Linked DNA regions of Homo sapiens. The protein of the gene in region 2 interacts with the protein of the main gene of each other region in a pairwise test. Each region holds a gene or a part of one and is shown on either strand. Other genes may lie near its edges.

Region 1 (6,896 bases), on a different chromosome or scaffold from region 2:
CAAGTTTTTTGACAAAGCTTTGATTCCTTAATCAACTGCAAATAAGAAAATCTGTGAATTCACCTATGACCTATAAGTCACCCCCTGCCACCCTCGGCTTCAAGACAGCCCACCTTTCTAGGCCAAACCATTGTGTACTGATGTACAATTCTGCCTGTAATTTATGCTTTCCTGAAATTCACCCCTGCCTTTAAAAACCCTTGCTTGTAAAGCCATGAGGGAAGTTGGGTCTTAAGTGTGAGCTGCCTCATTTTTCTTGTTTGGTGCCCTGCCTGCAGATAAATGCCCTCCTTTTTCCTGCTGCAAAACCTTGCTATGAATGTTTGGCCTAACTGTGCCAGGTGAACAGACTCCAGTTTAGTTCAGTAATATGGTGTGAAGGAGATATTAAAATACAGTAAAAGAGTAATTCATGATTTACCTCCATTGTGATTTTTAAAAAAATAATTCCAAATTTAAATTTAACCATACAGAAAACAAACAAGTTATTTTCAGAAATAAGTTTTCAATGTTTTATCATATTTGATAGCAGCTTTTTTTATTGGTTACAAAACCTAAGCCCATATACAAAATTAGGAACACATTTAGATGCCTCTTTTGAAAGAACGTTTTAGTCTTTTTAAACTGAGTTTAAAAAAAAATAACAATGCAATTTTTAAACACTGTTTTGAAAACTTAAAAGTGCAGCAATATACTTAGTTTCCTTTATCTACGAAATGGTGCAATTCCAATTCAAAACTGGTAAGGTCACAAATTGAATCAAGGAAATGCATACAAGTGTCTGCACTACTTGATGCTAATGTTCACTTAAATGTTAGTTTGCACTTTAAAACATGAGAGGAAATAGGAATCATCACAGTAGAGGCCCAATTTTAATCATAATGTGTGCAAATTTTAAAAGGTAACTGTCAGTTAAGTAAGGAAAGTCCAGAAGAAACTAAACTGGAAGGGGTACGGTTCACAATATCAAGAAGATTTGGACTTTTAAGGGTTTCACCGAAGTTTGTGACCTTAATTAGCTTTTACGTTGTTATTCCTACTTTTAGCGAACACCACACAGTTTCAAAAATTTAGACTATAGTGTCCGAACAGGATGCAGTTACCATATGAAGCTTTAACTCAAAATTTGGATAAAGAAAAAAAGGCACAATGAACTTCAACTCAATTTTATGTGCACAAGAGTTGAAAAATCTGAGCCACCTTAAAGAGAAATTGATTCTAAAATTTATAAAACCTATAAATAATCAGAGGCCAAACCACTATATTAAAACAGATTCTCTAGCAAGTAAAAATCTTGCAGTTTAAACATACGCTTGTATCCACTTTAGATACAAGACAAAACTCACTCTTTAAAGTGGCTCCACCTTGGCAGATACATATATTTGTAATGAATGCACACCTGCTATGTGTTGTTTATCAGTGAAAACACCCCAGCTGATTCACAAAGCTCTGATGGCATCTGTCTCATCTTCATCACAGTAAATACACCCCCCAATGGATAACTAAATTAGTTTAGATTTTCTATCCCTTCACATCAATGCATTGGGAAATTATACCCAGTAAACAAGAGCAACAATACCATTTCTGTGACAGCACAAATTATTTAGTTTAAAAATTTTTAAATCCATATTCTTTCATTAATAACTGGGTCAGACAATTTACCAAAAGCAATAACTTGACATAGTAATACCGGATTTTGCAGAATTACTTAGAGATCACTGCAAATCAGGTTTATGTTAAATAACTGCAAATTACTCCTCTACACAGATCCCTGTCTGAATCTTTTAATATGTGAAGATGCTTTTTGAGTAGGATCTGAATTAACTTTCCCAATACTCAAAGAATGAACTCTTATGACACTTCTAAATAGTTGCTGGTTTGTTGCCAACCACATTATCAAAAGCACTGGTTACTAAGTAAAAAATATTTTAAGACTAAATTACAGTAAACATGAAAGCTCCACAGTTTAAACCCAATATAAATCAACCATATCCAATTATCAAATTAAAACAAAGAATATTAACTCCTGAAAGCTGAAAGCAAGATTTTTTTAAAAAACATCACCAATGGGTATTTTAGACTTTTGCAGTTTTTTTTTGTTTGCTTTTTGTTTTGCTGTTTTTCCTTTATACTCAGGGACTCTTGCTTTCAACTTAAACAGAAGTTCAAGTCCATAACAGGTTGCAGCTCAGGTAAAATACCATGCACAGCATTTGATTACTTCAAAACAGCAGGAACACACAGGCTGAAGAGAGTGGTCAAATAGGGCTTGCTGTTCTCAAAAATTAGGTATAATGGCAAAAGCATTAATATCCATATCTAAAGTTCTTCCTCCAACCCTGGCTTCTGAGGCAGATAATAAACACATCAATTACTGGTAGATGAAGTAGTTTTTTTTTTTTTTTAAACTTATCTGTTTATTCAATAACCAAGTTTCTTGTTTTTAAGTTACTTTTTTTGTGTCAGTTCCACCAATGAAAATCATTTGGCTTGTACTTTAAAATCTATTCTTCCACATAAAGAATATGAAAATATGTTTGTGGAGGACAATGATGGAGGCTCAGATCACACTGCACCTCTTTAGTCTTCCAACTTGTATATGCATCATACCAAAGTGTCTTGATCCACAGCGCACCATTTTCCAAAGGAGTATCAGTGGGCAGCTGACATGTCACCACTATGGAATATTTATTCTAAACTGGAGACTGCAGTTGTCAGCCTGTGGCACCAGGGAACAGGGAAAAATAGGGTAGTTGAGATTGTTAAGGAGAGTTCTAAAACAGTTTAGGAAATCATGCATATGCATTTACAGTCCATGTGATAGTGACTTTTGGCAACTGCAAAGTGACTGAGACATGGCTTGCTTTAGAAGCATCAAAACAAAGAGGCATGTGTGTTTTGGAGCCTTTTGTTGCTGTTGTTCTTATCATTTGGTAGCCATCTGGTGGTGCTTCATATTGAATGTGGGAAAGATGCTGCACTCAACTGAATTTAAAAATTAAATTCTTTTGTTTGAAGGTTGGCTGTTGGATCAAAATTGTAGGTACCTCCTTGTGTTGCTTCAGGAATGAGGCAGGGATCTTCATCAATCTGTAAAAAACAAGAAAAAAATCCTTATTAGGTTATGATACTATACATTATGATGTAAGTGGAATTGACTTTTTACCTCTTAGCAAATAATTCTATGTGAATGCTTTAACCAACTAAAAATATTCGAGTAAATCAATAATTTTATTAAGAAATTTAACAATTTAAAATTTAACACGTTTCGAAACTGCATTGTTAAGTTTCTGTATCTGGGACCTAGATTTATTTAACCTATCTGAACATATATCACTTATATAATTACTATTTCTTCCTAGTTAATAGATTAGAAATGAAACAAGAACTGTTTTTACAACTTTACCTTATAATGAAGTTTCAAAGTATTTAAGAGAAAGTGACTGATGGAATGTCTAATAGAAATACAGTACAAACTTATGTCATCCTAATAATAAAAGGAAAACTCTTAGTAAATTTACATCATGTATAGGTTTTCATTTACATGAAGATACACGCTATTTTAATATCTACTTACATCATCACCAGAGAAATACTGATCTATGATTTCAAATGCTAATTTATATATGTCTTCATTTTCATGTTGCTGTAAAACTTCAATTTTCTCCAAACCTGGTAAAAATAAAATAATCAAAATAACTGGTTAATTGATAAGGAGATACTAATCAAAACCACACTCATTTTAATCATGGAGAAATCCTAAGGAACTCAGAACACACTGCTCCCCCATCTAAGATAGTGGTTTGTCTAAAAAACAGACAAAACACGGGGCTGCTTCTAGTTGGAGGACCAGAATCCCACTAATTTTTTCCTTCTTAGAAGCCCTTGAGGTACCCGGATCCCTGAGGCAGACAGTCTAAAAAAACACCCAAACAATCCATTTGACAGAGGGAAGCTGTGGCATAAATATGTAAAGAGACTTATTTCAAGTTATATGGCAAGTTTGTGACAGTACTAGAACCAACTCCCCCACAGTGCTTTAATATAAATTTACTAATCTATTTTTTTTTTGAGACGGAGTCTCGCTCTGTCACCCAGGCTGGAGTGCAGAGTGCAGAGGTGTGATCTCGGCTCACTGCAAGCTCCGCCTCCTGGGTTCATGCCATTCTCCCGCCTAAGCCTCCCAAGTAGCTGGGACTACAGGCGCCCGCCACCACACCCGGCTAAGTTTTTCTATTTTTAGCAGAGACGGGGTTTCACTATGTTAGCCAGGATGATCTTGATCTCCTGACCTCGTGATCTGCCCACCTCGGCCTCCCAAAGTGCTGGGATTACAGGCGTGAGCCACTGCGCCTGGGCATTTTTTCTTTCTTTCTTTTTTTTTTTTTTTTTTGAGACGGAGTCTCACTCTGTAGCCAGGGCTGGAGTGCAGTGGCACGTCTCGGCTCACTGCAACCTCCACCTCCTGGGTTCAAGTGTCTCCTGCCTCAGCCTCCCAAGTAGCTGGGATTACAGGTGCCCACCACTATGCCCAGCTAATTTTTTGTGTTTTTAGTAGAGACGGGGTTTCACCATGTTGGCCAGGCTGGTCTCGAACTCCTGACCTCGTGATTCGCCCGCCTTGGCCTCCCAAAGTGCTGGGATTACAGGAGTGAGCCACTGCACCCGGCCAATCTTATTAATCTTACTGCCTCATAAAGTAATTTGTATCTTTCTCTTTGTTTTCCAAATGTTATTACCTTTATATAACCACAAAATGAGTTTTTAGAACCTTATAATTGGTATAAAAGATATAAAGATTTAAATTTTGAAAAACTTTCTTTAAAAAATGAATAGAGGTCTTATGTCCTATAGCCACAATGAACCTGGGAGAAAATATTTCCAGAACAGATATCATAGAATGCCTTCATTTATATTTCCAATATATTTACTCCACACATCATATACATGTTTATCAATTTCACACCTTAATATTCTTCCTTGAAATGTCTTTTTGAAGGTTATTTTAAAATAGTTGCAATTTTTTCTTATATACTAATAAACCAAAAGAATGGGGGAAATCGTTGCCAAAGTGCTTTATACAATTATAAAATATTAATATGTATCCTATTACTCCTATAGACAAAAGTAACTATATTGATAAAAAGCTGAAGAGTAGTAATTCTCTAAGTTGCTCAAACTTACTGTGTTATGAACCTGACTACAATTTTTAATTATCTTAATAGTAAGAAGATCTGGATTTTAACTTTGCTTCTATCACAACCTACTTCTGTCACCTTGGACAAGACTCCTTAAAATCTGTGGGATAATTTCTTCTCAAGAAACCCTCCCGGCTGGGTGCAGTGGCTCACGCCTGTAATCCCAGCACTTTGGGAAGCCGAGGCGGGCAGATCACCCGAGGTTGGGAGTTTAAGACCAGCCTGACCAACACGGAGAAACCCTGCCTCTACTAAAAATACAAAAATTTAGCCGGGCGTGGTGGTGCATGCCTATAATCCCAGCTACTAGGGAGGCTGAGGTAGGAGAATTGCTTAAACCCGGGAGACGGAGGTTGCGGTGAGCCATTACACTCCAGCCTGGGCAACAAGAGCGAAACTCTGTCTCAAAAAAAAAATAAATAAATAAAAAATAAATAAATAAATAAATAAATAAATAAATAAATAAATAAATAAATAGAAAGAAAGAAATCCTCCCAGTCTGAATATTCTACGGTACTACTGCATTTGTTTTCTCTTAAAATAAATAAATAAATAAACAATAGAATATTCATATAAAGTAGTCAATGAAATGTAAAATCTAAAACATGACATTATGATAAACTAATTTAAGGTTTAAACATGTTAGTACATATTGAACATGTACATTTAAAAACAGAATTTTAACATATGTTTCACATGTCATTAAAGAATAATACAGTATGTCAAATCACAATTATTTCTCATTAAAATTTCAAAGTAACTGCCACAGTAATAACTTCAGGATGTAGTTGTGGAAATCCTAAGAATCATTACAAGATTGAAACAAAATATCTAGGTGACTCAGAAGTCAGTAACCTTTTCCAACTATATGAAATAATATTTCCTAAAGTGGGGTCCACAGAATTACATGGTAATAACACACAAAAAAAGTGTTTCATTGTTAAGAAGTTTAAGAAATGCTGGATTAAATAAAGCTTTAAAATTTATGTAGTGTTGTAAGGGCTCTTAAATTTGCTGTCATGCACTGTGACTTCAAGAGAAGTATTAGTGTTTCCTAAAATGCAATGTCAGGCCAGGCGCAGTGGCTCATGCCTGTAATCCCAGCACTTTGGGACGCTGAGGCAGGTGGATCACTTGAGGTCAGGAGTTCGAGACCAGCCTGGCCAACATGGTGAAACCTCGTCTCTATTAAAAACACAAAAATCCACTGGGTGTGGTGGTGTGCGCCTGTAATCCCGGCTACCTGGGAGGCTGAGGTGTGAGAATTGCTTGAACTCGGGAGGCAGAGGTTGCAATGAGCTGAGATTGTGCCACTGCACTCCAGCCTGGGCGACAGAGCAAGATTCTGTCTCCAAAAAAAAAAAAAAAAGCTATGTTGTCAATCTCTAGAAGGCTATACAGTGACTTTCACAACCTGATTTTGCAAAGTATGGACTACTGTCTTCTGGAAAATCCTCTTGGAATGCAAATATAGTGAATAAAGAAAAGCAACATACTGTGATCATTTAAAAACAACGTATCCTAGTAATTTTCTGTCTAGTAAGTTGACTTTAAAGAACTTATGTTTCAGAGTTCCAGTGCTCAAATACTCTTCTTCCATCAATCCACTCTTACCTCCACATTCCTCTATTATTTCAGCTATTGTGCTTGCTTCATCACCGGCCATTATCAGAATGTTTTTTAGACCATCTAGAACCA
Region 2 (4,557 bases):
AGCCAGGATGGTCTTGATCTCCTGACCTCATGATCCGCCCACCTCGGCCTCCCAAAGTGCTGGGATTACAGGCGTGAGCCACAGCGCCTGGGCCTTATTTTTTTTGTTTTATAGAGATGGGGTCTCACTATTTTGGCCAGGTTGGTCTTGAACTCCTGGCCCCAAGCAGTCCTCCTGCCTTGGCCTCCCAAAGTGTTAGGATTACAGGTGTCAGCCACTATGCCTGGCCTTTATTTTCATTTTATATTGCATACTTGTGGGTGTCTGGAAAATGCCCCTTGTTAGTTGCATGAAGTGAAGGAGAATAAAAGGCACTTGGAGCTTATTTCTCCTGCAGTGGTCTCTAATCTTTGAGGTGTCCTGGGTCTCTTTTGGGAATCTGATTCTCATAAAATAAAAGCTCATAAAAACTGTGAACTGTCATTCTTTTTTTTTTTTTGAGACAGAGTTTTGCTCTTGTTGCCCAGGCTGGAGTGCGATGGCACAATCTCGGCTTACTGCAACCTCTGCCTCCCGAGTTCAAGTGATTCTCCTGCCTCAGCCTCTCAAGTATCTGGGGTTACAGGCGTGCGCCACCACACCCGGCTAATTTTGTATTTTTAGTAGAAACGGTATTTCACCATGTTGGTCAGGCTGGTCTCAAACTCCTGACCTCAAGTGATCTACCCGCCTCGGCCTCCCAGAGTGCTGGGATTACAGGCTAGAGCCACCGCACTCGGCCTAAGCCCTCATCCTTGAAAAGCACATACGTATCTTCATTTTGATACAGTGGGTTATTAGAAAAGTAAACCCCTTTCCACTTGGAGGAGGTAGAGGGGAAGAAAAAGCATACCCCAAAGCTCTGTTTTATTCTTCCCAGCTGTGCCAAAGGTCAAGCTGCTGTGTGGGGCAGATTTATTGGAGTCCTTTGCTGTTCCCAATTTGTGGAAGAGTGAAGACATCACCCAAATCGTGGCCAACTATGGGCTCATATGTGTTACTCGGGCTGGAAATGATGCTCAGAAGTTTATCTATGAATCGGATGTGCTGTGGAAACACCGGAGCAACATTCACGTGGTGAATGAATGGATCGCTAATGACATCTCATCCACAAAAATCCGGAGAGCCCTCAGAAGGGGCCAGAGCATTCGCTACTTGGTACCAGATCTTGTCCAAGAATACATTGAAAAGCATAATTTGTACAGCTCTGAGAGTGAAGACAGGAATGCTGGGGTCATCCTGGCCCCTTTGCAGAGAAACACTGCAGAAGCTAAGACATAGGAATTCTACAGCATGATATTTCAGACTTCCCATTTGGGGATCTGAAACAATCTGGGAGTTAATAACTGGGGAAAGAAGTTGTGATCTGTTGCCTAAACTAAAGCTTAAAAGTTTAGTAAAAATCGTCTGGGCACAGTGGCTCACGCCTGTAATCCCAGCACTTTGGGAGGCTGAGGCAGGTGGATCACGGGGTCAAGAGATCGAGACCATCCTGGCCAATATGGTGAAACCCCATCTCTACTAAAAATACAAAAATTAGCTGTGTGTGGTGGCACGTGCCTGTAGTCCCAGCTACTTGGGAGGCTGAGGCAGGAGAATCACTTGACCCCAGGTGGTGGAGGTTGCAGTGAGCCAAGATTGCACCATTGCACTCCAGCCTGGCGACAGAGCAAGACTCTGTCTCAAAAAAAAAAAAAAATTTAGTAAAAATCAATGGTAAGCTAAAATAAGTTTTTGTTTGTTTATTTGTTTTTGAGATGGAGTCTCTACTAAAAATACAAAAAATTAGCCAGGCATGGTGCCGCATAACTATAATCCCAGCTACTTGGGAGGCTGAGGCAGGAGAATCGCTTGAACCCGGGAGGCACAGGTTCCAGTGAGCCAAGGTTGTGCCACTGCACTCCAGCCTGGGCAAAAAAGCAAAACTCCATCTCAAAGAGAAAAAAAAAAAAGACCGGGTGTGGTGGCTCACACCTGTAATCCCAGCACTTTGGGAGGCCTAAGTGGGTGGATCACGTGAGGTCAAGAGTTCAAGACCAGCCTGGCCAATATGGTGAAACCCCATCTCTACTAAGAATACAAAAAATTAGCTGAGCATGGTGGTGGGCTCCTGTAGTCCCAGCTACTTGGGAGGCTGAGGCAGGAGAATCGCTTGAACCTGGGAGGCAGAGGTTGCAGTAAGCCAAGATCGTGCCATTGCACTCCAGCCTGGGTGACAGAGCGAGACTCCATCTCAAAAAAAAAAAAAAGCCTGACAGCTAGCAGGTTTCAGGATCCATCTGCCAAGTTAGTGAAAGGCTGGAGCCTCAAATCATACAGATGAGGGTCATTTTCTCCTCCTTAGCTTCTTGGAGTTTAAGAGTTGAAGGAGTCCTGAAAAGTAATGATAGAGCAAGATGAAGCTATCAGAACTGAATTTGGACTTCCTCTGGGAAACTACACCTAGTTCATCTGAAGTGTCACGTAAACTGCAGAAAGTTTCCAATGCTGGAAACTTCTCTCATACTATCGTGCCTTCCTACTCAGAAGTGCCTGTGCCCTGCTCAGCTGTGACTACTGACCTCAGGACCTCACTGGACAAGGCATGTGGGGACCCTTGCAGGAGCCCTGGTAAGGGTACAATGATCCTATTGTTTTTTGTTTTTGAGATGGAGTCTCACTCTGTCTCCCAGGCTGGAGTGCAGTGGTGCGATCTCCGCTCACTGCAACCTCCGCCTCCCGGGTTCAAGCAATTCTCCTGCCTCAGCCTGCTGAGTAGCTGGGATTACAGGCACCCACTACCATGTCCGGCTAATTTTGTATTTTTAGTAGAGATGGGGTTTCGCCATGTTAGACAGGCTGGTCTTGAACTCCTGACCTCAGGTGATCTGCCCACCTCGGCCTTCCAAAGTGCTGGGATTACAGGCATGAGCCACTGCACCCAGCCTGATCCTATTGTTGCACTATTTATGGAGCAACAACTTTGTACAAAGAACAAGCTTTGTACAGAGAACAAGCTTGGCTTTTTCTCCCAACGCCGAGGATGCTGTTGATGCTGCCACGTAATAGCATAATTTTGGGTGTCCTCAAGGACAGAACTTCCACTTTGAATAATGGAAGTTAGAACAATGAATTTCACAGGGGAATAAATATTAATGACTGACGTGAAGAAAATATGCCATTGTTTATTCCCTCCTGCATCATTTCCATAATTTGCTTTTGTACTGTCAATTTAGAGGAAATGTGTGATGCTGGTGTTTTGTTTGGCCTGTTTGTTTGATGCTGGGGGTTTTATGTGTTGTACCCTTTACCCCTTACATTGTGTAATTTGAAAGTGGCAAACAAACCTGCAGTAAAAGTCCTTGATTGGCATCTTCATTCGGATGATGGAGAGCCTTTGTGGTAGTGTTTGCTTATGTGAACAGCAGGCCTTTCAGATAAGAGAAGTGGCTTTTCCTTGGTGATGAAGGGGTAGAGATTGAGCCATGGGGATGGTTTAGGTTAAAGAATGCTTTTTTTTGGCCATCATGAGGATCTAACAACAGAGTAGAAGGAAGGATGCCCTAGGTCAGCATGCAGGGTGGTGGGAGGGCTTTCATCTTCCTTACCCAAGCCTCTCTTTTCACTTTTCTAGAAGTCCAGAAGTTGTTATATGATGAAATAGCCTCCTTTAACGTTTATTTCTGGGTGCCAACGGAGGCCCATTCCTCTAACATTCTCATAATTTTTCTCAAAGGCCTATGATCTAAACATTTCACCACGGCATCCACTCAGCTGTGAGGCTGCGTACACAGTCTCCACCTCTGAAATCTGAACTTCGTTTACCAGTGGTGCTGTTTGAACTTCATAATGTCAGCACTTCCTGAACACTTACTGTGTGCTTGGCTTGTGCTCCTGAGTGCCTTATATCATAAGGAAACGGCAAAATCAGGGGACTGGTATAAATGGTGAGCTGAGCTTGAATCTAAGCTTTGTCTTCAGAGCCAGTACCCCTAATCTCTCTTTCTGTAAAATATTACTTTTCAAAGAATGAAGTTGTAGCCAAATCTTGAAATTTTTCATTTACCCTAAGTGAGGACAAATAAAGCTTTCAACAACAGTTTGTGGTAGTCTGATGGAGATGAGTCCGACGTATTCAGTCCTCACGGAAGGACTAGGCTGAACTTGCCCAGTGTTAGCAATTCCTTGGAACTAGAACAGTGGAATCCGAGGGAGAAGGTGATATGGGCCATAATTAACTTTTGTGTTTGTGTGTGTGTGTATGTGTGTGTGTGTTTGCTTCTGAGACAGTTTTGCTGTGTCACCCAGGCTGGAGTGCAGTGGCACAGTCTCGGCTCACTGCAACCTCTGCCTCCTGGGTTCAAGCAATTCTCCTGCTTCAGCCTCCCAAGGAGCTGGGATTACAGGCGTGTGTTACCACGCCTGGCTAATTTTTGTATATTCAGTAGAGACAGGGTTTCACCGTGATGGCAAAGCTGGCCTCAAATGATCCGCCCACCTTGGCCTCCCAAAGTGCTGGAATTACAGGTGTGAGCCATCACGCTCTGCCCAGATAGGGTTTTTGACCTGTCATAGTGGTGCCTGGTCCCATTATTCTCT
Region 3 (7,033 bases), on a different chromosome or scaffold from region 2:
CGCTCTGTCTCCAGGACAGAGTGCAGTGGCACAATCTCGGCTCACTGCAACCTCCACCTCCTGGGTTCAAGCGATCCTCCTGCCTAAACCTCCTGAGTAGCTGGGATTATAGGCGTGCGCCACCATGCTCGGCTAATTTTTTTATTTTTAGTAGAGACGGGGTTTCACCATGTTGGTCAGGCTGGTCTCAAACTCCTGACCTCAGGTGACCCGCCCACCTAGGCCTCCCAAAGTGCTGGGATTATAGGCATAAGCCACTGAGCCCGACAATAATACATATTTTAAAACAACACAGTATAACAACTCAACTACACAGCATTTACACTGTATTAGATATTATAAGTAATCTGGAGATGACTCAAAATATACAAGAGGATGTGTGCAGGTAATATGCAAATACCATGCCATTTTACATAAAGGACCTGAGCATCAGTGAATTTTGATATCTGCAGAGGATCCTGGAACCAAGGGATAACTCTACATTTCCTAAATCAAAATTTGAGGAAAACAAAATCTGCTTATATTCTTTTTGACATCTAAATAAATATCGTTCTTCTTTTTTTTTTTTTTTTTGAGATGGAGTCTTACTCTGTCGCCCAGGCTGGAGTGCAGTGGCATCAACTCGGCTCACTGCAAACTCTGCCTCCCGAATTCACGCCATTCTCCTGCCTCAGCCTCCTGAGTAGCTGGGACAACAGGCGCCAGCCACCACGCATGTCTAATTTTTTTGAGATGGGGTTTCACCTTGTTAGCCAGGATGGTCTCAATCTCCTGACCTCGTGATCCGCCCGCCTCAGCCTCCCAAAGTGCTGGGATTAAAGGGGTGAGCCAGGGCTCCCAGCCTGTTCTTCTTTAATATGTAAACAATCTTCCTTCTAATCATTTATTCAACACAATTTTTTTAGTACCTACTATAATGTATGAAGGATTGTGTTAGACGCTGTAGATAGGGAGATGAGAAATCATTATCATATTTCTGAAATAGGCCTTGCCTATTACATGCCTGTAATCCTAGCACTTTGAGAGACAGAGGCAGGAATATTGCTTGAGGCGAGGAGTTCAATACCAGCCTGGGCAACATAGCAGGACCCCATCTCTACTTACAGAATACAATAGAATAGAATACAATAGAAGAGAATAGGCCTTTTCTACTTTCTTCACTGCTAGTCCTTTTCATACATCAGTTTTAATTCACATGTGTGAGAACCACATTATTTTACTTACTTACAAATACTTCTACATTTAAGTACATCTTGGAATAAAAAATGTTGAGATGTACTCTCTTAAACAATTTTATATTCTTTATGTCACATATGAAAAGTATAAACAGAGATCCAGCTAATAAGACAATGGGGGAACAGTATGAATAGCATGGGAAGATGACAATAATTTACTTACGGGCAAGAATTATGAAAACTACAAAGCAGCAAATAATATATAATTAATGTTTCTTTAAGGGGCAAATTTTACAATGACAAATGGAAGTGATCTAAATAGATGCAAGAGGAAAAATTTCCTAGCAGTAGGGTAAAAATATAATTAACACAACAGGTTTATCAATAAAACAGAAAATCCATTTCTCCCAGTGACTAAAGTAGCACAGAGTTCTGTTTCACAAATTTGCAATTATGATGCCTGGAGTCTAATAAATAATAGATTTAGCTATATTCAATTTCTTAAAACATTTCCATTTAAAATTATCCAATAATTAGCAAATAATTAAAATTTTAAAAAACAAAATTAAATAGCTAAAAACACCTACCTGTTCTTCTCTTTTTTGTTTTCTAAGCTGTATTCCTTCTTCTTCTCTTCGTCTACGCATCTCTTGAGGATTTAGGGCTTTATTCTTATAACTTTTCATTCTATAGTTATCTTTCCCTGGACTAGCCATGGCATCTTAAAGGAAGGAGAAAAGAAAACAGACACTGATAACTCACTCTCTCAAAACAACATGAGACACTTAATCTAGCAACTAAATTCAGGCTCACTGATTAACAGGTCAACAAAACCCATTCTGAAAATTATGTACAAAGAATACATTCCCTTAATTCCACATCAAGATTAGAGCAAAATGACCACATATTTTAGAAATAATATCTTAAACAAATAATTTTGGTCTAAACAAAGACAAAGTTTACCCTATCTTATTGATTCTAAGATGCAACAACCTTTCCTGTCTCCCTAGCCCCCACAGTGTTTTAACCTTTCTGAAACATAATTACTGTCAGGAAATAATCATGAATTATTTGGGTTAAAAAAAAAGTCTTCTAAATTACAGTTTCTGGCTAGATCAAGAAATAACCAGCTTTGAAGTATCTTATTTTTAATGAAATATGATATTAGGCTCCAGTAAGCACATCTCAAATATTTATTGGGGTCTGGCTTCTTTCACTTACTGAAGGCATTGCCTTAAGAGCTATGGCCACAAGGGTCAGGACTTGAATTATGACTACAATATCAGTTTTTAGTACTCCAGTATAATTAGTTCTTTTGAAATACTAAAATACATGTATACTTTATTTTTAAGTAGTTTTATTGCAAATGTATTTTAAAACATTAACATTTATATACCTATTTTATAAATACATAAAATATATGCAAATATATTTCATATTTGAATATATGTGCTAGTTTTACTTTTAGAAAGTGAATTATAAACTTTAACAATGTAACAGTATTGATATCTTGATATTATCTTATAGGAATATTAAAATACTGATATTATAACCTATTCTGGACTTACACATCACACACACACAAAATCTGCCTAAAGCAGGGTGCCAACTTCAGTTTAACAGTAGATAGTGAGTACCCAGTATGTTATTCTGTTAAATTCAGAGGACATATCCATGTCCAACCAGAGACAATGTTGTGACCAATTAGCTTATGAAGTAAACACAAGAGAAGGAGAGGCTGGCATCTGTCTGCCATCCCTGATATTGAAGAGACAGACTAATGAATTGGCAAATTTTATTGTAAGGAGTACACTAAAATACATGCTTTAAATCTTGAGAGAGCAGTGAAGATATGGCAACTAATTGTGCCTTAGGGACTTCTGAAAGCTTCATGGGTATCCTATTTTAAAGGAAAAACAGGAAAGAGAAATGGGGAGAATCAAGCATTTCAAGCAGAAGGAATATATGCAAAGGCAAAGTTTTTGAAGAAGCCTTGCATAACCAAGAACAGTAAGAGACTAAGTGTGTCCAAAATGAGGATGCATGGCAGAACATAAAGCTATAAAGGTAGGTTAGAGGACATATGGTTCCTATAATGCAGCTGTGAAATTTGGACTTGATCCTAAGGAATAGAATTAAACAAATTAAGGAAAAGGTTGTTTTTACATAGTTCAGAGAGAGAGATAGGAAAGATGCTGAAGGCGTGAACTAAACAAGTTACTACAATGAAAACATAGAAGACAAGTTGGATTCTAGAAATATTTCTGAAATTGATTCAGTAAAAATTAGAGGCCAAATGAATGTAACAGATATCTGGTGAGGAAGAAAAGGGAGTTGAGGATGACTCCATGGTTTTTAACTGAGCCATCTGAGTAGTATGGCAAGATAACATAAGACAGAGAATACGGATGGAGGATCAGAGTAGTGGTTGTTGTGTTTACATATCGGCTTGTTTCTGAGACAAGAATAATGAATTCCGTTATTTTAGGTTTATTTTTAAATTTATATTTAGTAAAAATCACTCTTTTCGTATACATTTCTATGAATTTAACAAATATACATGCATGTAACTATCACAATCAAGACACAGAACAGTTGTCACCCCCTAAAACTCCCTCAAGCTGCTCCTATTAGCCCTCCCTGACCCTTAACATCTGGTAAAAAGTTAATTCTCCATCCCTATAGTTCTGCCTTTTCCTGAATTTCAGAAAAGTGGATTCATACAGCATGTAGTCTTTTAAATCTGACTTCCCAGAAAAAGTATAAAATACCTCAAAATATAGCCAGCCAAGGAGGTGAAAGACCTCTAGAGTGAGAATTACAAAACGCTGCTAAAAGAAATCAGAGATGACACAAACGAATGGAAAAACATTCCATGCTTGTGGATAGGAAGAATCAATATCGTGAAAATGGACATACTGGCCAAAGCAATTTACAGATTCAACACTATTCCTATCAAATTGCCAATGACATTCTTCACAGAACTAGAAAAAACTATTTTCAAATTCATATGGAACCAAAAAAGAGACTGAATAGCCAAGGCAAACCTAAGCAAAAAGAACAAAGTTGGAGGCATCATATTACCTGACTTCAATCTGTACTACAGGGCTACAGTAACCAAAACAGCAGGGTACTGGTACAAAAACAGACACATAGACCAATGAAACAAAATAGCCCATAAATAAGGCCACACACCTACAACCATCTGATCTTTGACAAAACTGACAAAAGGAAGCAATTGGGAAAGGACTCCCTATTCAATAAATGGTGCTGGGATAACAGGCTAGCTACATGCAGAAGATTGAAACTGGACCCCTTCCATATACAAAATAACTCGAGATGGATTAAAGACTTAAATGTAAAACCCAAAACTATAAAAACTCTGGAAGACAACCTAGGCAATATCATTCTGGCCACAGGAATAGTCAGAGATTTCATCACGAAGGGGCTATTGCAACAAAAGCAAAAATTGACAAATGGGATCTAATTAAACTTAAGAGCTCCTGCACAGCAAAAGAATCTGTCAACAGAGTAAAAGACAACCTACAGAATGGGAGAAAATTGTTGCAAACTATGCATCTGATAAAGGTCTAATATCCAGCATCTATAAGAAACTTAAACAAATTTACAAGAAAAATACAAACAACCCCATTAAAAAGTGAGCAAAGGACATGAACAGACACTTTTCAAAGGACATACATGCAGCCAAGAAGCATATGAAAAAAAGGTTAACATCACTGATCATTAGAGAAATGCAAATCAAAACCAGAATAAAATACCATCTCACACCAGTCAGAATGGCTATTATTAAAAGGTCAAAATGAGCCAGGTATGGTGGCTCACACCTGTAATCCCAGCACTTCGGGAGGCAGAGGCGGGAGGCAGAGCCAGGAGGATTGCTTGAGCTCAGGAGTTCAAGACCAGCCTGGGCCACACAATGAGACCCTGTCTCAACAAAATATCAAAACATTACCCAGGCATGGTGGCACGTGACTATAGTCTCAGCTACTCAGAAGGCTGAGGTGGAAGAATCACTTAAGCCCAAAGGTCAAGGCTACATTGGCCATGACCACACCACTGCACTCCAGCCCGGGCAACAGTGAGACCATGTCTCAAAAAGGAAAAGAAAAAAAGTCAAAAAACAAATGTAAATTAGTTCAATCACTGTGGAAAGCAGTGTGGCAATTCCTCAAAGAGCTAAAAATAGAACTACCATTTGGCCCAGCAATTCCATTACTGGGTGTATATCCAGAGGGATATAAATCATTCTACCATAAAAACATGTGCACACAAATGTTCAGTGCAGCAGTTTTTACAATAGGAAAGACATGGAATCAACCTAAATGCCCATCAGTAACAGACTGGATAAAGAAAATGTGGTACATAAACACCATGAAATACTATGCAGCCACAAAAAAGAATGTGATCATGTCTTCTGTGGGAACATGAATGGAGCTAGAGGACATTATCCTTAGCAAACTAATGCAGGAAAAGAAAAACAAATACCACATGTTCTTACTTATAAGTGGGAGCTAAATGAGGAGAACACATGGACACAAAGAAGGGAACAACAGACACTGGGGGCCTACCGGAGGGTGGAGGGTAGGAGGAGGGAGAGATGCAGAAAAAATAACTATTGGGTACTAGGCTTAGTACCTGGGTGACAAAATAATCTGTACAACACCCATGACACGAGTTTACCTATACAACAAGCTTGCACATGTGCCCCTGAGCCTAAAGGTAAAATAAACAACAACAACAAAACCAACAAAATAAATCCGGCTTCTTTCATTTAGCACGGTATTTGAGTCGTCCACATTGTTGGCATCTATCAACTCTCCTTTCTTATTGCTGTTATTCCACTGTAGGGACAGATCACGGTTTATCAGTTTTCCAGTTAAAGAACATCTGGGTGGTTTCTAGTTTTTGGAGGTTATGAATAAATGTGCTACAGACATTTATGTAAAGGTGTTTGTGTAAACATAAGTTTTCATTTCACTCAGTAAATATCTAGGAGTAGAACTGACGGATAATACGGCAAGTTTATGTTTCACTTTATAAGAAACTGCCAAACTTCTTTCCAAAGTGAGTATTCCATCTTGCATTCCCATCAGTAATGTATGAGAGTTCCAGTTGCTTTGCATCCTGTCTCCATTTGATGATTTAAGGGGTTTTGTCGTTGCTGTTGCTAGTCATAGCCATTCTAATAAGTGTATAGTGACTCTGGTTTTAAACATGGTAAATGTGTAGTACTTGGTGCACATGTAGGAGGCTTTGATCTGTAGATGGTTGAAAATACGGATCAGAACTCAGGACAGGGATCTGGAGTGATCATTTGCTATCATGTAGAGCTACAGAAGAAGGATGACCAAAGGAGAAATCTTGGGGACCATCATATTTTAGCAGAAAAAGGCAAGAGCAAAAGAAACCAAAAAGAAGTAGGTCAGAGAAGTAGAAGAATAAGGAAGAAATTAAGAGTCCTGCAAAGGAAAGGAGTTCAAAAGATAAAGGAATATTTAAGTTGTAGTACCACTGAAAACAGGCCACTCGGTTTATTCATTCATTGATTCATCCAGAAAATAAAAGTGCCTGTAATAATCCAAGTACCATATCAGGCATCAGATTTGGTAATTATGTCACTGGTAAAGATAGTGAGACAAATCTCACTACTGGTGGAGCTCAAGGTAGAAGGGAAGGGGCTGAGGACTTGAGAATGATTGAAAAGAAATGCATGATTAATTTACCAAAATTCCTCCTTTAAAATATTTAATAGATTCAGCAATACTATGTGCACCTACAAATAGATATCATTAGAAACTGCTCAATATGGCCGGGCGGGGTAGCTCACACCTGTAAAC
Region 4 (7,538 bases), on a different chromosome or scaffold from region 2:
CAAGAGGCCTATGATTCTGCATTTCGTTTTTCTTTTTTTTTTTTTGAGACCAGGTCCTACTGTGTCACCCAGGTTGGAGTGCAGTGGCATGATCATGGCTCACTGCAGCCTCGACTTCCTGGGCTCAGGTGTTTCTCCCACCTCAGCCTCCTGAGTAGCTAGGACTACAAGTACACATCACCATGCCTGGTTAATTTTTTATTTTTCTGTAGAAACAGGGTCTCATCATGTTGCGCAGGCTGGTCTCGAACTCCTGGGCTCAAGCAATCCTCCCATCTCAGCCTCCCAAAGTGCTGGGATTACAGCACTTTGAGCCATTGTGCCCAGCCGATCCTGCATTTCTAGCAAGCTTCCAACGGATGCCATATATGGCTGGGCCCACGTTTTGAGTATCAGGGATAGAGGTACCTTTTACGTAGCACTTCTGTGTCCTAGGTACTGTCCTAAAGCATATATCTAGCCAAGAGGCAGCTCTCTCTATATTCCCTTTCGTTAATTCTCACCAAAATCAGCACCAAAATGGGGTCTACTATTATCCCCACTTTGATAATGAGGAAATTGAAGCACTGAGAAATTAAGAAACTTGCCCAGGCTGGGCGTGGTGGCTCACGCCTGTAATCCCAGCACTTTGGGTGACCAAGGCAGACAGATCACCTAAGGTCAGGAGTTCGAGATCAGCCTGGCCAACATGATGAAACCCCATCTCTACTAAAAATACAAAAAAGCCAGACATGGTGGCGGGCGCCTGTAATCCCTGCTACTCGGGAGGCTGAGGCAGGAGAATGGCTTCAACCTGGGAGATGGAGGTTGCAGTGAGCTAAGATTGCGCCACTACACTCCACCCTGGGTGACAGAGTGAGACTCTGTCTCAAAACAAGAAAAAAGAAACTCGCCTAAGATCACACAGCTATTAAGAGATAGAGCTGAGGCCGGGCACAGTGGCTCACGCCTGTAATCCCAGCAATTTGGGAAGCTAAGATGGGCGGATCACCTGAGGTCAGGAGTTCAAGACCAGCCAGGCCAACATGGTGAAACCCCATCTCTATTAAAAATACAAAAAATTAGCCAGGCGTGGTGGGAATTAGTCAGCTACTGGGAAGGCTGAGGCAGGAGAATCGCTTGAACCCAGGAGGTGGAGGTTGCAGCGAGCCGAGATCGTGCCATTGCACTCCAGCTTGGGCAACAAAAGCGAAACTCTGTCTAAAAAAAAAAAAAAAAAAGAGAGAACTGAGATTCAAACCCAGGCCAGATGGCTCCTGTTTGCTTTTAATCACCCCACTGTACTCCCTCATGGTACAAGAGTCTTGGTCCAAGGTCTCCATTTGCCCACTGGATTATTTCCTTATTAGACTAGATTCCTATTCCCCGCCCTTGAGTTGTTTGCAAAAAATGCATCAGTGGGGGAGGACAAAGACAGGGCATCCCTGATAAGATTCAGAGAACACCCTGCTGGCTCCAGTGTTCCCAAAGAACTTGCTGCAGATGTAACAAGATGTCACAGATTCTCAACACCTTACCGCCTCCTGCCCCGCCCAGGACTACAGAATCAGCATCTCTTCAGGTGGCACCAGAAATGTATACATTAATACATTCTATGCTTGTTAACAATCCAGCTCCTGTGGCTGGGATGCAGGAGTCCCCTCTCCCACGCTCTTCCCTTGAGCCTCAGGAGACAACTGACTGCAGGAATATAAACCCCAGGAATTCTCTTAAGAGAAGCCAGCGGCTGCGTGCCTCTCCCTGGAGGCCCTCCCTTACCTTCCTCATCCCCTGGAGGGTAGAGTTTCAGGAGGGATAGATCATCTGGGATAAGGCGAAGGCTGCTTTTAACCTGCAAAGACAAAGAAGGGAGAGGGGTCAGGCCCAAGTCCTTCCCCTACCGAAAGAAAAAATTGGGGGTAATTCTTCCCTGACACCCAGCTCCCAAATCCTCCCTAAGATCGTGGACACCTTGGCCCTCTCCTGGCAACCTAGAAGTCCAGCTTCCCCAGGATTCAGAATGGAAGTACCCTTCACCCTTTCCTCCATCTGCCTAAGACACTCTGAAATGTATGCTTCCTTGCCCTTTTTAACTAGGTTACTAGCCGCCCCTCTACCCCTGACTCTTAGGGACTCTCAGCCCATTGCTCACACGACCATCGGGGGACCCCAGCCTCTGGAGCCGCCCAGTCCTCTCTGAACCCGCATGGACCCCAACCCCCAATACTGCAGCTCCCTGGCTTCATTTGCCATGGACCCCAACCTCAAAATCCAACGGCCCCAGGTCCTCCCAGTCCCTCTCCAAAATCTCAGGAATCCCAGCTCTTCAGCCTCCCTGTGCCCCCAAGACTCTAGCTCCTAGGAATCCTAAACTTCCAACGCATCCCACCCTCCTTCACCACCCCAGTCTGCAGAAAGTCCCGGAGCCCTGCCTCTCCCTGCCTCCAACACCCTAACGCCCGAGGACCAGCCCCAGAACGCCAGCCTCAACACCCCTATAGCCCTACCCTCCCCGAACGCCGGCCCCTCCCTGGAGGCCAAGCCCTTGGCCCTTCCGCCGGTCCCCTCCCCGGGACCGGGCGCACCTTCCCCGAGTACACCGGAACCAGCGGCGCCTCCCCCGGATCCAGCACCAGCCGCCGCCGCCGCCTGACCGGCTCCCGCGGGGGTCCTGCGGGCCGCCTGTCCTCCCCTTCGCTGTCACTGTTGCTGTTATCCCGGGACGCGACCGGCCCCGGGGGCTCCGGGGGCTCCACCTCAACCTCGTCCGCGGCACCGCGAGCGGTGGCGACCTCCAGAATTTCCTCATCGCTGTCGGTGACCAAGTCCACAGACACTACGTCCAGCGTGCCCCGGGATGGAGACCGCTGGGCCCGAGGACGCCGGCCCCGACCGCCCCAGCCGCCCCGACCCCCTCGGCCGGCACCGCTACCTCCGGACCAGCGGCCCCGCTTCCCCACAGGCTCCGCCATGGCACACTTTCCTCCACAACACACGCCCGCCTCCTCTCGCCTCGCCCCGCCCCCTTCAGCGACTTTCGCCTTGCATTGGACAAACAGCCTGCTCGTCAGCAACTCTTCGCGCCCCACGCGCGGGATCCGCCTTCCCGCCTTTTCATTGGTCTCTGTACCCGCTCATCATGCGCCCACCTCTGAAACCAAGGCGCCAAAGATTCCAATCACCTCGGCACAATCACCGTAGCTTTCGATTCAGTCGGCCTCACCCATTGGCTGGGCCACCTCTCCACAGACGAGCCTCTCCCGGACCCGCCCAACCAAGACAACCGTCTTCCGGCTTGGTTAGTCGCAGGGCATCCTGGGAAATGTAGTCCTCGAGCGGTAAGGTTTCCGGGAGAAGGAAGGCGGGCCTGGAATTCCCTGTGGAAACCGCGGATTTAACCAGGCGCGGTGCCTCACGCCCGTAATCCTGGCACTTTGAAAGGCTGAGGCGGGCAGATTGGTTGAGCTCAGGAGTTTGAGACCAGCCTGGCCAATGTGGCGAAACCGCGTCTCTACTAAGAATGCAAAAATTACCCGGGCGTGGTGGCACCCCTCTGTGGTCCCAACTACTCAGGAGGCTGAGGTGGGAGTTTCGCTGGAGCCCGGGAGGCGGAGATCGCACCACTGCACCCCAGCCTGGGTGACAGGGCGAGACCCTGTCTCAAAAATGCTTTAAAGAAATAATAAGGCTGGCCGCGCGCGGTGGCTCACGCCTGTAATCCCAGCACTTTGGGAGGCCGAGGCAGGCGAATCACGAGGTCAGAAGTTCAAGACCAGCCTGGCCAACACGGTGAAACCCCGTCTCTACTAAAAATACAAAAATTAGGCGGGCGTGGTGGCGTGCGCCTGTAATCCCAGCTACTCAGGAGGCTGAGGCAGGAGAATTGCTTGAGCCCGGGAGGCAGAGGTTACAGTGAGCCAGATCCTGCCGCTGCACTCCAGCCTGGCCGACAGAGCGAGACTCTCTCTCAAAAAAAGAAAGAAAGATAGAAATAATAAGGCTGGGCGTGGTGGCTCACGCCTATAATCCAGCACTTTGGGAGGCCGAGGTGGGCAGATCACCTGAGGTCAGGAGTTCGAGACCAGCCTGACCAACATGGTAAAACCCTGTCTCTACTAAAATACAAAAATTAGACAGGCGTAGTGGCAGGCGCCTATAATCTCAGCTACTCGGGAGGCTGAGGCAGGAGAATCGCTGGAACCCAGGAGGCAGAGGTTGCACTGAGCCAAGATTGTACCACTGCACTCCAGCCTGGGCAACAGAGTGAGACTCCATCTCAAAAAAAAATCTTATGTATTTATTTATTTTTAAATTTTATTTTATTCATTTATTTAATTTTATTTATTTATTTATTTTGAGATGGAGTTTCGCTCTTATTGCCCAGGCTGGAGTGCAATGGCTCGATCTCGGTTCACTGCAACCTCTGCCTCCCAGATTCAAGCAATTCTCGTGCCTCAGTCTCCAAGTAGCTGGGATTGATTACAGGCGTGCACTACCATGCCCAGCTAATTTTGTATTTTTAGTGGAGATGGGGTCTCACCATGTTGGTCAGGCTGGTCTTGAACTCCTGACCTCAGGTGATCCACCCCCCTCCGCCCCCGCCTTGGCCTCCCAAAGTGCTGGGATTACAGGCGTGAGCCACTGCGCCCGACTATTTATTTTATTTTTTTCTTTTTCTTGATTCGGAGTTTTGCTCTGTTGCCCAGGCTGGAGTGCAATGGTGCGATCTCAGCTCATTGCAACCTCCACCTTCAGGGTTCAAAGGATTCTCTTGCCTCAGCTTCCCGAGTAGCTGGGATTACTGTTGCCTGCCACCTTGCCCAGCTAATTTTTGTATTTTTAGTAGAGACGGGGTTTCACCATGTTGCCCAGGCCGGTCTTGAACTCCTGACCTCAAGTGATCCACCTGGCTCGGCCTCCCAAAGTGCGGGGATTACAGGTGTGAGCCACAGCACCCAGCCTGGCATATGTAAATCTTCATGATGGCTACATAAGCCACTTGCCAGTCTCCAAATTCAGGAATTCAAGGACCTGGGAGCCCTGACGAAATGCCGTCGTCAAGGCAGTTAGCTCTCTTGTCTCCCATTTCCCCTAGGAGGGAAAAGCTTGGCTTCAGTCTTGCTCCAAGATGCAGGCTACCTCCTGTCCTAAAGATATGAAAAGTTTGTGTCTACTCACCCCTACCATACAAGCCAATTCAATAACACAGGTGGTCACCCCACTTACCATCATAAAGTTAGACTGGGGCCAGGCGTGGTGGCTCACGCCTGTAATCCCAGCACTTTGGGAGGCCGAGGCGGGTGGATCACTTGAGGTCAGGAGTTCGAGACCAGCCTGGCCAACATGGTGAAACCCCATCTCTACTAAAATACAAAACAAAATTAGCTGGGCATGGTGGTGTGCGCCTGTATTCCTAGCTACTTGGGAGGCTGAGGCAGGAGGATCAGTTGAACCCAGGAGGTGGAGGTTGCAGTGACCCGAGATCGAGCCATTGCCCTCCAGCCTGGGAGACAGAGCCAGACTCTGTTGCAAAAGAAAAAAAAAAAAGCCAGGCGCGATGGCCCATACCTGTAATCCCAGCACTTTGGGAGGCCAAGGCGGGCGGATGACAAGGTCCAGAGATTGAGACCATCCTGGCTAACACAGTGAAACCCTGTCTCTACTAAAAAATACAAAAAATTAGCTGGGCGTGGTGGCGGGCGCCTGTAGTCCCAGCTACTCGGGAGGCTGAGGCAGGAGCATGGCATGAACCCAGGAGGCGCAGGTTGCAGTGAGCCGAGATTGCACCACTGCACTCCAGCCTGGGCGACAGAGCGAGACTCCGTCTCAAAAAAAAAAAAAAAAAAAAAAGGCTGAACTATGTTTGACTAAAGGTGTTGTCACGTCCTCTTACGTGAGGACTAGTCATTGTTTATCTTGAAAACATGGTATTGCAACCACCCCTATAAACTTGAGAAGAAGGGAGAGGGAGAAATGAAAAGAAACCAAACTTGCGGTGCACTCAGCATTGATCTCAGGGCAGCTGCTCCCTGACCTGCTTCCCCAAAGCCATCTGGTGCCTGTTGCCCCACAGTCACACAGCCCCTGTCAGAAGATTATAGTTCCCCTTAACTGCTCTTGAATCACGGCTTGGACATTACATTAGGTGTTCCCTTTGAGATATTCCTTCAGGTCTTGATGGAACTACTGATTCAGCTGACCTGAAGGACCCCACAAGGAGCTGACTCCCCGCAAAATGCAGCTTCTACACCCTGACAATTTCATCCCCCTTCCCAACCAATCAATGACCCCAATATTCCAGCCCATCACTCCCCACAAACCCCTTAAAAGCCCAGCCCAGAACTCCCTGGAGAGAGATTTGAGGGTCTCCTCCCATCACCTCGCTCGGCACCCTGCAATCATTAAACTCTCTCTGCTGCATCCCCACCGTCTCAGAGTCACAGAGCTGTGACTGCACAGTGGGCATATGAACCTGCAGCTCCTGTAACAATATGGAATTTGAAATTTTATCTTGAAAACAGGATAATGGTTTACACCTGCTTGGCTGTAATGAAGGATATTTCTTTTTGCCTTTGCAATCTTTTACCAGATTGCCAGTGATGTGCATCACATTCTAACTTAATGCTTATTCAAGCCGGGTGCAGTGGCTCACGCCTCTAATCCCAGTACTTTGGGAGGCTGAGGTGGTTGGATCACCTGAGGTCAGGAGTTCGAGACCAGCCTGGCCAATATGGTGGTGTATTTTTCTACTAAAAATACAAAAAATTAGCCAGGCATTGTGGTGGGCACCTGTAATCCCAACTACTCCGGAGCCTGAGGCAGGAGGATCACTTGAACCCGGGAGGCAGAGGTTCCAGTGAGCTGAGATTGTGCCATTGCACTCCAGCATGGGCAACAAGAGTGAAACTCCATGTCAAAAAAGAAAGAAAAATTATGCTTATTCAATAATAAAACCAGCCCGGGCATGTTGGCTTATGCCTGTAATCCCAGCACTGGGAGCCTGAGGTGGGAGGATCACTTGAGGTCTAGGGTTCAAGGCCAGCCTGGGCAATATAGCAAGACCCTGTCTCTACAAAAAGTAATAATAATTAGTGGGTGTCGTGATGCACACCTGTAGTCCTAGCTACTTGGGAGGCTGATTGAGCCCAGGAGTTCAAGGCTGCAGTGAGCTATGATCTCACCACTTCACTCGAGCCTGGGCAACAGAGCAAGACCCTCTCTCTAAAAATAAATAAATACATACAATTTAAGGCCAGGCACAGTGGTTCACGTCTGTAATCCCAGCACTTTGGGAGGCCAAGGTGGGAGGATCACTTCAGGCTGAGCGTTAAGACCCGCCTAGGCAATATAGTAAAACCCCCAACTCTACGAAAAATAATAATACATTTTAAAACTTTTTTTTTTTTGAGATGGAGTTCCACTCTTGTTGCCCAGGCTGGAGTGCAGTGGCACAATCTTGGATCACTGCAACCTCCACCTCCCGGGTTCAAGCGATTCTCCTGCCTCAGCCTCCTGAGTAGCTGGGATTACAGACATGCGCCACCACGCCTGGCTAATTT

What was found.
Region 1: the proteins of NMNAT1 (region 2) and KPNA3 interact in binary tests that used the Homo sapiens proteins (3 or more experiments, as listed by UniProt).
Region 3: the proteins of NMNAT1 (region 2) and KPNA5 interact in binary tests that used the Homo sapiens proteins (3 or more experiments, as listed by UniProt).
Region 4: the proteins of NMNAT1 (region 2) and NFATC2IP interact in binary tests that used the Homo sapiens proteins (3 or more experiments, as listed by UniProt).

What each region holds. Positions count from the first base shown.
Region 1 is NC_000013.11:49,698,809-49,705,704, forward strand, and holds the end of KPNA3 (importin subunit alpha-4), read right to left. Parts: coding exon 6,813-6,896; intron 3,673-6,812; coding exon 3,578-3,672; intron 3,091-3,577; coding exon 2,992-3,090; 3' UTR 512-2,991; downstream 1-511. UniProt on the Homo sapiens protein: Functions in nuclear protein import as an adapter protein for nuclear receptor KPNB1. Binds specifically and directly to substrates containing either a simple or bipartite NLS motif.
Region 2 is NC_000001.11:9,981,442-9,985,998, forward strand, and holds the end of NMNAT1 (nicotinamide/nicotinic acid mononucleotide adenylyltransferase 1), read left to right. Parts: exon of another isoform or gene 1-325; intron 326-859; coding exon 860-1,260; 3' UTR 1,261-3,694; coding exon of another isoform or gene 3,695-3,702; 3' UTR 3,703-4,057; downstream 4,058-4,557.
Region 3 is NC_000006.12:116,684,183-116,691,215, reverse strand, and holds part of KPNA5 (importin subunit alpha-6), read right to left. Parts: intron 1,897-7,033; coding exon 1,763-1,896; intron 1-1,762. UniProt on the Homo sapiens protein: Functions in nuclear protein import as an adapter protein for nuclear receptor KPNB1. Binds specifically and directly to substrates containing either a simple or bipartite NLS motif.
Region 4 is NC_000016.10:28,946,425-28,953,962, reverse strand, and holds the start of NFATC2IP (NFATC2-interacting protein), read right to left. Parts: upstream 3,027-7,538; 5' UTR 2,952-3,026; coding exon 2,565-2,951; intron 1,832-2,564; coding exon 1,759-1,831; intron 1,062-1,758; exon of another isoform or gene 1-1,061. UniProt on the Homo sapiens protein: In T-helper 2 (Th2) cells, regulates the magnitude of NFAT-driven transcription of a specific subset of cytokine genes, including IL3, IL4, IL5 and IL13, but not IL2.